Homo sapiens: one gene and its partners. The protein of the gene in region 1 purifies or fractionates together with the protein of each later gene. This does not show direct contact. Each region holds a gene or a part of one and is shown in the gene's direction. Other genes may lie near its edges. The genes, in order: PCDHB2, CLEC4A and SPSB4.

Region 1 (3,757 bases):
TTTTAACCCAATGGATCTTTTAGAGACACATCCTAATATTTATTATTATTATTATTATTTTGAGATGGAGTCTCGCTTTGTCACCAGGCTTGGAGTGCAATGGCATGATCTCAGCTCACTGCAATCTCCGCCTCCCGGGTTCAAGTGATTCTCCTGCCTCACCCTCCCAAGTAGCTGGGATTACAGGCACCCATCACCATGCCTGGCTCATTTTTTTTGTATTTTTAGTAGAGATGGGGTTTCACCAGGTTGGCCAGGATGGTCTTGATCTCTTGACCTCGTGATCTGCCTGCCTCGGCCTCCCAAAGTAAAATTATTTTTTAAAGCAGCCTTAGAGTTTACAGAAAATTGAGCAAATAGTACAAACAGTTCCCCTCACATACCGATTTTCTCCCACTCAAAGTTTCCCTGTTATCAAAATCTTGCATTACTGTGGTACATTTGTTACAATTGATGAGCCAATACTGGTAAATTATTAACTAAATTTCATAGTTTAGTGTTCACTCTTTGTGTTGTATAGTTCTGTGGATTTTGACAACGGCATAATGTCATGTATCTACCATTGTAGTATCGTAAAGTACCCCATGTTTAACCTCTTCATCCCCCTCCCTCTTCTTCCTAGCTATCACTTGTCTTTTAAATGTCTCTATAATTTGGCCTTTTTCAGAGTATCATGTAATTTGAATTATACAGTATCATTGCCTTTTCAGACTGGATTCTTTCACTGAGAAATATGCATTTAAGTTTCCTTCATGTCATTCTGTGGCTTGATAACTTCTTTATATTAACATTAAAAAAGAAACAAAAAGACAAAATTAAAAAACCTAACAACAAACAATGACATATATACCCTGTTTGGAAGCAGATTGAAGAAACCATCACTGAAAAGACATTTTTAAAGATAATTGGGGAAACTGGAATATTTACTGGCTATTTAATATTATGAAATTGCTCTTTGCTAGATGTGGTAATTGAATTGAGGTTATGTTGAAAGTTCTCCTAGGCATTAGAAAGGAAAATAATATTGATACATTTACAATAAGGAAATATCTGGCTGCTCTTGGAGAGTTTCATGAGGCTCAGACACATCAAAGTTCAGGAAAATGTGAAGTGGGAGCAGTGCAAAGAAAGAAATATGAGTAAGGAGACTATTTCAGTGCCCATTAAAATACTCTTATTTGGATTCTGTGCTTTTCCTGGGTCTCTGTTTTTCAGCTGGGTTTGAGTGTGATGATGGTAATCTAACCACCACTGAGTTGCACACATGCCCAAACTCTGAATAAAAATAGAACTTTCTTAGTCTAAGCCTTCTTTCCGAAGCATGCTAGGACTGAGATCACTCCCTTCCAGGTTCTGAAATTTATTTTTTCCAGTTTGAAAAAAAAAAAAAGCTTGGATTTGTGAGGGAAGTGAAGATTTATTTATTCTTGCCCTGTCTCTATGGGTGCAATGAAGAGCCTTTCGAAACGCCAATAAGACTTCGGTACACTGAGAGACACTACTTGAAAATACTCAATTTCGATTGCCATCAGCCTGAAAGAAAGCACTGGGATTTTCTTAAAGTTTAGGAGAAAATAAATACTCGGAAGAGACGCGGGGTGGCGCTGCAGCCTTAGAAGTAGCAGAAACAAAGCACCCAGCCGACGCTCCCTTACCCAGATACTCAGCTAAAGAAGCAGCAAGCAGGAAGAGGAGGCTTTCTAAGGCGGTCGCTCCGGGAAATCCGGGCCCTAGGATTGTCCACTCATCCCAGTATCAGCGAGATACGGGGAGATAGAGTTAGCGACAACGTGAGCCAGAGCTGGAGCACGTTTGGTGAGAGACCAGAAAGCAATGGAGGCCGGAGAGGGGAAGGAGCGCGTTCCGAAACAAAGGCAAGTCCTGATATTCTTTGTTTTGCTGGGCATAGCTCAGGCTAGTTGCCAGCCTAGGCACTATTCAGTGGCCGAGGAAACGGAGAGTGGCTCCTTTGTGGCCAATTTGTTAAAAGACCTGGGGCTGGAGATAGGAGAACTTGCTGTGAGGGGGGCCAGGGTCGTTTCCAAAGGAAAAAAAATGCATTTGCAGTTCGATAGGCAGACCGGGGATTTGTTGTTAAATGAGAAATTGGACCGGGAGGAGCTGTGCGGCCCCACAGAGCCCTGTGTCCTACCTTTCCAGGTGTTACTAGAAAATCCCTTGCAGTTTTTTCAGGCGGAGCTACGGATTAGGGACGTAAATGATCATTCCCCAGTTTTCCTAGACAAAGAAATACTTTTGAAAATTCCAGAAAGTATCACTCCTGGAACTACTTTCTTAATAGAACGTGCCCAGGACTTGGATGTAGGAACCAACAGTCTCCAAAATTACACAATCAGTCCCAATTTCCACTTTCATCTTAATTTACAAGACAGTCTCGATGGCATAATATTACCACAGCTGGTGCTGAACAGAGCCCTGGATCGCGAGGAGCAGCCTGAGATCAGGTTAACCCTCACAGCGCTAGATGGCGGGAGTCCACCCAGGTCCGGCACGGCCCTGGTACGGATTGAAGTTGTGGACATCAATGACAACGTCCCAGAGTTTGCAAAGCTGCTCTATGAGGTGCAGATCCCGGAGGACAGCCCCGTTGGATCCCAGGTTGCCATCGTCTCTGCCAGGGATTTAGACATTGGAACTAATGGAGAAATATCTTATGCATTTTCCCAAGCATCTGAAGACATTCGCAAAACGTTTCGATTAAGTGCAAAATCGGGAGAACTGCTTTTAAGACAGAAACTGGATTTCGAATCCATCCAGACATACACAGTAAATATTCAGGCGACAGATGGTGGGGGCCTATCTGGAACTTGTGTGGTATTTGTCCAAGTGATGGATTTGAATGACAATCCTCCGGAACTAACTATGTCGACACTTATCAATCAGATCCCAGAAAACTTGCAGGACACCCTCATTGCTGTATTCAGCGTTTCAGATCCTGACTCCGGAGACAACGGAAGGATGGTGTGCTCCATCCAAGATGATCTTCCTTTTTTCTTGAAACCTTCTGTTGAGAACTTTTACACTCTGGTGATAAGCACGGCCCTGGACCGGGAGACCAGATCCGAATACAACATCACCATCACCGTCACCGACTTCGGGACACCCAGGCTGAAAACCGAGCACAACATAACCGTGCTGGTCTCCGACGTCAATGACAACGCCCCCGCCTTCACCCAAACCTCCTACACCCTGTTCGTCCGCGAGAACAACAGCCCCGCCCTGCACATCGGCAGCGTCAGCGCCACAGACAGAGACTCGGGCACCAACGCCCAGGTCACCTACTCGCTGCTGCCGCCCCAGGACCCGCACCTGCCCCTCGCCTCCCTGGTCTCCATCAACGCGGACAACGGCCACCTGTTCGCTCTCCAGTCGCTGGACTACGAGGCCCTGCAGGCGTTCGAGTTCCGCGTGGGCGCCGCAGACCGCGGCTCCCCGGCGTTGAGCAGCGAGGCGCTGGTGCGCGTGCTGGTGCTGGACGCCAACGACAACTCGCCCTTCGTGCTGTACCCGCTGCAGAACGGCTCCGCGCCCTGCACCGAGCTGGTGCCCCGGGCGGCCGAGCCGGGCTACCTGGTGACCAAGGTGGTGGCGGTGGACGGCGACTCGGGCCAGAACGCCTGGCTGTCGTACCAGCTGCTCAAGGCCACGGAGCCCGGGCTGTTCGGCGTGTGGGCGCACAATGGCGAGGTGCGCACCGCCAGGCTGCTGAGGGAGCGCGACGCTGCCAAGCAGAGGC
Region 2 (2,903 bases), on another chromosome or scaffold:
CTCATGCCTGTAATCCCAGCACTTTGGGAGGCCAAGGCGGGCGGATCACTTGAGGCCGGGAGTTCAAGACCAGCTTGGCCAAAATGGTGAAACCCAGCCTCTACTAAAAATACAAAAATTAGCCAGGCATGGTGGCACACACCTGTAGTCCCAGCTACTGGGGAGGCTGAGGCATGAGAATCGCTTAAGCCTGGGAGGCAGAGGTGCAGTGAGCCAAGATTGCACCACTGCACTCCAGCCTGGGACAGAAAGTGAGACTCCATCTCAAAAAAAAAAAAAAAAAAAAATTCCTTCCGTATGTACTGAACATCATGCTTACAAGCGATGTCTTTGATTCTGCCCTGCTCAGCCAGAGATCCCCATTCCTACGTAGAGCTCTAATGCAGCTGTTGCTGGATCCTCTCCTTTTCTTCTTGTTTCTCTAAGGTATTAAGAATTCAGTTTAAGCTGAATACTGTAAAGGCTGTGACTCCTTCTTTTCCCCCCTCAGGATTTCATCTTCCAGAATCTGCAAGAAGAATCTGCTTATTTTGTGGGGCTCTCAGATCCAGAAGGTCAGCGACATTGGCAATGGGTTGATCAGACACCATACAATGAAAGTTCCACGTGAGTATAGAATGAGATAAAAGAATCTTGGGTCCTGGATCATGCAGAGAGCTTAGGGTATTCTAGCTATCAGCTATAAAAGTAAAATAGCTCACTCTTCTTTTAGCTCTTGGGTACTAGGTTAAATAATTTCATTATCTCATTTAATCTGCGCAAGAACCCTATGAGGCACACATTGTTATTTTTCCCACTGTAGATATGAGGAAATTGAGCTTGGAGAGTGTAGATAATTCAGCTAAGGTCACCCAGTGGTGTCAACAATTGTTCTCAAATCAGGTGGATCTTACTGTGCTTTTAACCCGTATATTTACCTGTCTCTACATAGTGAAAACCCATGTTGATTAAGATCATAACCAATTATTAAGATTTAATAATGCTTTTTTTTTCTTTTTTGAGACAGGGTCTTACTCTGTCAACCAGGCTGGAGTGCAGTGGTGCAATCATGGCTCACTGCAGCCTTGAATTCCTGGGCTCAACTGATCCTCCCACCCAAGTCTTCTGAGTTGCTAGGATGACAAGTATGTGCCACCACACCCAGTCAGGCTGAAGATGTAATGCTTCTTATGAAGCAAAAATGCTAAATTCTGATAATCTTATATCTCATATTTATGTAATTCTTTAATTGCATAAATTACATACTTTACATATATTACATAAATTACATAAAATACATACTTTACTGGATTACCACCTTCGATCTTCATATCCACTGTATGAAATAAATAGTGATATTACTCTAGTCCTTATTTTTTAGATAGAAAAACTGAGAATCAGGGAAGTTAAATTACTTGTCCAATAACAAGGATAAGTAGAAGATTCAAAAGATTTTACTAGTTCTCTAGACTTTAAAAACAGTGCATTAAAAAAAGGAAAAAACTCTATTGATAAGTGGGACCAGGGTAAAATCTTTTCATCATACAAGGACACCCTATAGGTTGATGGACCCATAGGAACAGGACATAAGGATGGACAAATAGAAGAGAACCTCTAGAAAATCTATGGTGAGGATATTCAAAGCAGTAAGGTAGAGAACATTGAGTGACATAGGCACAGTTTTCAAAGGAAATGCCGGAAATGCAGATGGAGGAGAAGCTGCATGATGAGTAGCAGAAAGGTGGATTTGGGCATATCTGACCCTATGTTCCATGAAATTCATCCCTCGCTCCTCACCCCTGTCTCTAACCCTTTTCAAAGCTCTGTTTGAAGAAATGCCCTCATCCTTTTTGTCGCTTTCAGATTCTGGCATCCACGTGAGCCCAGTGATCCCAATGAGCGCTGCGTTGTGCTAAATTTTCGTAAATCACCCAAAAGATGGGGCTGGAATGATGTTAATTGTCTTGGTCCTCAAAGGTCAGTTTGTGAGATGATGAAGATCCACTTATGAACTGAACATTCTCCATGAACAGGTGGTTGGATTGGTATCTGTCATTGTAGGGATAGATAATAAGCTCTTCTTATTCATGTGTAAGGGAGGTCCATAGAATTTAGGTGGTCTGTCAACTATTCTACTTATGAGAGAATTGGTCTGTACATTGACTGATTCACTTTTTCATAAAGTGAGCATTTATTGAGCATTTTTTCATGTGCCAGAGCCTGTACTGGAGGCCCCCATTGTGCACACATGGAGAGAACATGAGTCTCTCTTAATTTTTATCTGGTTGCTAAAGAATTATTTACCAATAAAATTATATGATGTGGTGTCTCCTCCTGTCTGGTTTTCTCTTCATCCCTACTATACTGATATATAATTGTATATATATACTGACATATATATATATTATATTTTATATATATATTATAATATATATATATACACTGACAAATAAAATTGTATATATTTAAGGTTTACACTGTGGTGATTTGACATACATATATATTGTAAAATGATTACCGTAATCAAGTTACTTAACCCACACCCATTATCTTACATAGTTAACAATCTTGTGTGTAGTGAGAACGTTTAAGATCTACTCCATTCTGTCCATTGGTATCAACAAACACAAAGCAAGATCTACTCCCCAAAAAATTTCAAGTGTGCAATGCATCATTATTAACTATAGTCACCATCCAGCACATTAGATCTCTAGAACTTCGTCATCTTAGAACTGAAAATTTGTACCCTTTGACCAACATTGCCTGATTTTCTCCACTGCCCTCCATTCCCTCACAACCATCATTTTACCCTCTGTTTCTATGGATTGACTTTTTAAGATTCTACATATAAGTAGAATTGTACAGTATTTGTCATTCTCTGTATGACTTATTATATTTCACTTAGTATAATGCCCTCCAGATTC
Region 3 (3,657 bases), on another chromosome or scaffold:
AAAAGAGAGAATAAAGCAAAATTCCTCCAAAAGCTGACAATGTTTATATCTGGTTAATGAGATAGGAGAAAGAGGTGAATTCTAGTTTTTGTCCTTTTTTTGTATTCTCTAAAATTTAGACATTTATTTAACCTTTTCTAATTAATGAGCTTTATTTCTTCAGAATAGTTTTAGATTTAAAGAAAAACTAAACAGATAGTACAGAGAGGTCCCATATGCTCACTCCATTTATCACCCTAGTTTCCCCAATTATTAGCATCTTACATTAGTATGGCACATTTATCACAACTAATGAACCAGTATTGATACATTATTATTAACTTATTTTAATAATTAATATTAATAATTGTTATTAACATATTTTTTCAGATTTCCTTTTTTTCTCAGATTTCAGTTTTTACCTAATATCCTTTTTCTTCTCTTTCTTTCTTTTTCTTTCCTTTTCTTTCTTTCTTTTTTTTTTTTTTTGAGATGGAGTCTCCCTCTGTCACCCAAGCTGGAGTGCAGTGGCACGATCTTGGCTTACTGCAACCTCCACCTCCTGGGTTAAAGCAGTCCTCCCACCTCAGCCTCCAAAGTAGCTGGGACTACAGGCGTGTGCCGCCACACCTGGCTAATTTTATTTTTTTAGTAGAGACAGCATTTCACCATGTTGGCCAGGCTAGTCTTGAACTCTTGACCTCAAATGATCCACCTGCCTTGGCCTCCCAAAGTTCTGGGATTACAGGTGTGAGCCACCAAGCCCAGCCCCTAATATCCTTTTTCTGTTCCAGATCCCATCCAGGATACCACATTATGTGGAATTGTTAGGTCTCCTTAGGGCCCTCTTCACTATGATGGTTTCTCAGACTTTGGTTCCGATGACCTTGCCGGTTAGGTCAGGTATTTTGTGGGATGGCCTCCAGATGGAATTTGTCCTTTGTTTTTCTCATGATTAGAGTGAGGTTATGGGTTTTGGGGAAGACACCCAAAGGAAGATTTCATTATATCATATCAAGGGTACACACTATCAACATGATAGATTAATATAATAGTAATATAATAATATAACATAATATAATATGATACATTACATGATTAGCTTTAATAGTTTATATGTTTTATTGATTTTGTTTTGTTTTTGTGGTAGTTTTTCCCAAAGAACCATCTCTTTAGTTTTTGCTTAGTTCTATTATTTCCCTATTTTATTATGCTCCATTCATTTTTTAAAATTTAATAGCATAAATATATCAGCCATGATTTCCTCTGAGAACTGCTGTAGAGGCACCCCGCAGGTTCTAGTATGTGGAATGCTTTTTGTTATTGTTGTATTCCAGATATTCTGCAATTTCTATATGGATTTCTTTTTTGATCTGAGTTGGGGTCAAGTTGTTTAAAGAATTTTTTAAAATGCCTAAGTGATAGGATTTTGTGATCTATAATTTTGTGATTAATTTCTAGTTTTCCTTCTGTGTTATCAGATACTGTATTATTTTTGCTTTTTTTGAAGTTTTGTTTGTGACCTAATATACAGGAAAATTTTTTTGATCATTCCATGAACACTTGAAAAGAACATGCATTCTTTGTTTTCAAGGTATAGAATTTGATGAACACATTAGTTAGATCTGTCTTATTAATTATGTAATTTGGTTTTTCTATGTCTTTACTTAATTTTGGTCCACTGGTCCATCATGAGCTAGAAGAGGGAAATTAAAATTACATGCCTCTGATGTGTGTCTGTCTAAGGCCCCTCCTTATATTTCCTCTAGCTTTTGCTCTGAATTTTGGTGCTATTTGGTGAGTTCGGTCTTCAATTGTGGATCGCATTCTTTATTATTATTAAGTATTCTTGTCTCACTTAAAACCTTTTGTCCTGAAATCAACTTTACTTGCCTAATATTAAGATTACAGTGCCTGCTTAGTTTGAGTTCACACTTCCCTGTTATGTGTTTGCCCTTCCTTTATTTTCAAAATTGTTAAATCACTTTGCTTTGGGGAATGTCTCTTATATGTAGCATATGGTTGGGGGTTTTGTGTTTTTCCCCAGTCTTATAATCTTTTTTTAGCAGTTTACTATGGCCATTTAATGACATGGTCAATATTTCGGTCTTAGTTTTACTATCATATTTCATGCTTTTATGCCTTTTTGCCTCTCTTGCTTTCTAACAAAATCTTTCAGTATATGATCTGTTTTATTTTGTATTATGTTCAAGGTTTGTATCTGCAAGATGTGTATTTTTATTTTTAGTTCTGGAGGTTACCTTTATAACTAGCCAAAATGGATTTAATCTTTTGTTGAGACCATGCTAGGTGTCTCCCTTCTGAAATAATCAATCACAAAATTAGTTTACAAATTTGGTTCCCATTTTTATCTGCTTTGTGGCAGCTTTTTTCAGGTGAGTTTGCTTGGTTTGCCATGTTTTGTCCTGTTCGTTTATTCCTTTCTTTCTTCTATAGCATCTTTGACTATATCCTGTGCTGGTTCCTCTTTGAAAGAGGTAAACCTTCTTGGATCAGCATTTTGCAGGAGACACATGTGGAGGAGGTACCAAGAAGAGGGCAGGATTGCTCCCTGGTTCCCAGGAACTTTGTTCACAGGGTTGTTGTAGTGACTTCCTTTAGTCTTTGCTTCTACTCTGTCAGCAGAGTTCTGCAGCTGTGGGCTTCTCCCAATTCAGAGCCCTCCTCTCACTCTGCCTTGCCAACACACTGCTTCCTGTGAAGATGGCGGGTCTGTGGTTTCCTCTGTTGGCCCTGCCCTCCTCTTCCCCCAGGGTGTAGGAGGCAGCTCCCACTACCAGACCACATGCCCTGTTCCCATTTTTTCTGATAAGGGATCATTAGTTTTTTCCTTCAGGGAATGCCAGCTCCTGGCTGGCTCTGCCAGCTTTGTCTGAGATCTGCCACCACAGGTGTCTTCTCTAGGTGTTTTCTCACAGTATTTTTGATCTTCACTGCTTTTGGTAGCCCTTACCTGTTTTGGGCAGCCTTTCCTTATAAGCTGTGTTTCAGGTTATAAATGTGTTCTAGTTTGCTGAAGAAGGAGTTTGCATTTCTTTTTTTCTCCTGGATTTTGGGTGATTTCGGATATGAAAAGGAGTAACTTTATTCTGCTATCTTAAAACTGCCTAGTGTTGCAAATTGTTATGTGTTCTGGTATTCCCTCAGATTGAACATTAGCCAGAGCTCTCGGAATAGGGTCAACATCTGCTGAAGCTGGGATCTGACAATAGAGAGGGAAGAGTATGAGAGTTAAGAATAAAATGGAATGGTGAAAAACCCACAGGATACTTGTCTGTGCTGTGTGGCAGCAGAGTTCTTTTCGTCCCTACCTGGACTTTGGCTAGGGGTGTACCACTGTCTGGGTGGGAGGTTGAGGCTGGGGAGGGCAGGGCATGAAAAACACCCATCCATCTCCTCATCTGGCTCAGGAGAAGTTGTTCTAGGCCCAGCAGCTCTCAGGCCAGGGAGGGGAGGGCACACGCCTCTGCTCTGGACAGGGCTTGGCTCTCCATCTCTCTCCATACCCAGGGCCCGTCCAAGTAGTCCGAGCTCCTTGGGTTCTGTCTGGTTTCCTAGTGATGGTGGCCAATTCCTTCTCCATGAAAACCAGGATCCTGTCTCAGGGAAGGCAGTCTGGGGTCAGTGCTGTTAATGGTATTTACCTGATCGAACAAA

What was found.
Region 2: the proteins of PCDHB2 (region 1) and CLEC4A purify together in Homo sapiens (co-immunoprecipitation; one large-scale study listed by IntAct). This does not show direct contact.
Region 3: the proteins of PCDHB2 (region 1) and SPSB4 purify together in Homo sapiens (co-immunoprecipitation; one large-scale study listed by IntAct). This does not show direct contact.

The regions. Positions count from the first base shown.
Region 1 is NC_000005.10:141,092,958-141,096,714, forward strand, and holds the start of PCDHB2 (protocadherin beta-2 precursor), read left to right. Parts: upstream 1-1,657; 5' UTR 1,658-1,833; coding exon 1,834-3,757. UniProt on the Homo sapiens protein: Potential calcium-dependent cell-adhesion protein. May be involved in the establishment and maintenance of specific neuronal connections in the brain.
Region 2 is NC_000012.12:8,136,298-8,139,200, forward strand, and holds the end of CLEC4A (C-type lectin domain family 4 member A), read left to right. Parts: intron 1-490; coding exon 491-606; intron 607-1,842; coding exon 1,843-1,990; 3' UTR 1,991-2,310; downstream 2,311-2,903. UniProt on the Homo sapiens protein: C-type lectin receptor that binds carbohydrates mannose and fucose but also weakly interacts with N-acetylglucosamine (GlcNAc) in a Ca(2+)-dependent manner. Involved in regulating immune reactivity.
Region 3 is NC_000003.12:141,061,286-141,064,942, forward strand, and holds part of SPSB4 (SPRY domain-containing SOCS box protein 4), read left to right. Parts: intron 1-3,657. UniProt on the Homo sapiens protein: Substrate recognition component of a SCF-like ECS (Elongin BC-CUL2/5-SOCS-box protein) E3 ubiquitin-protein ligase complex which mediates the ubiquitination and subsequent proteasomal degradation of target proteins.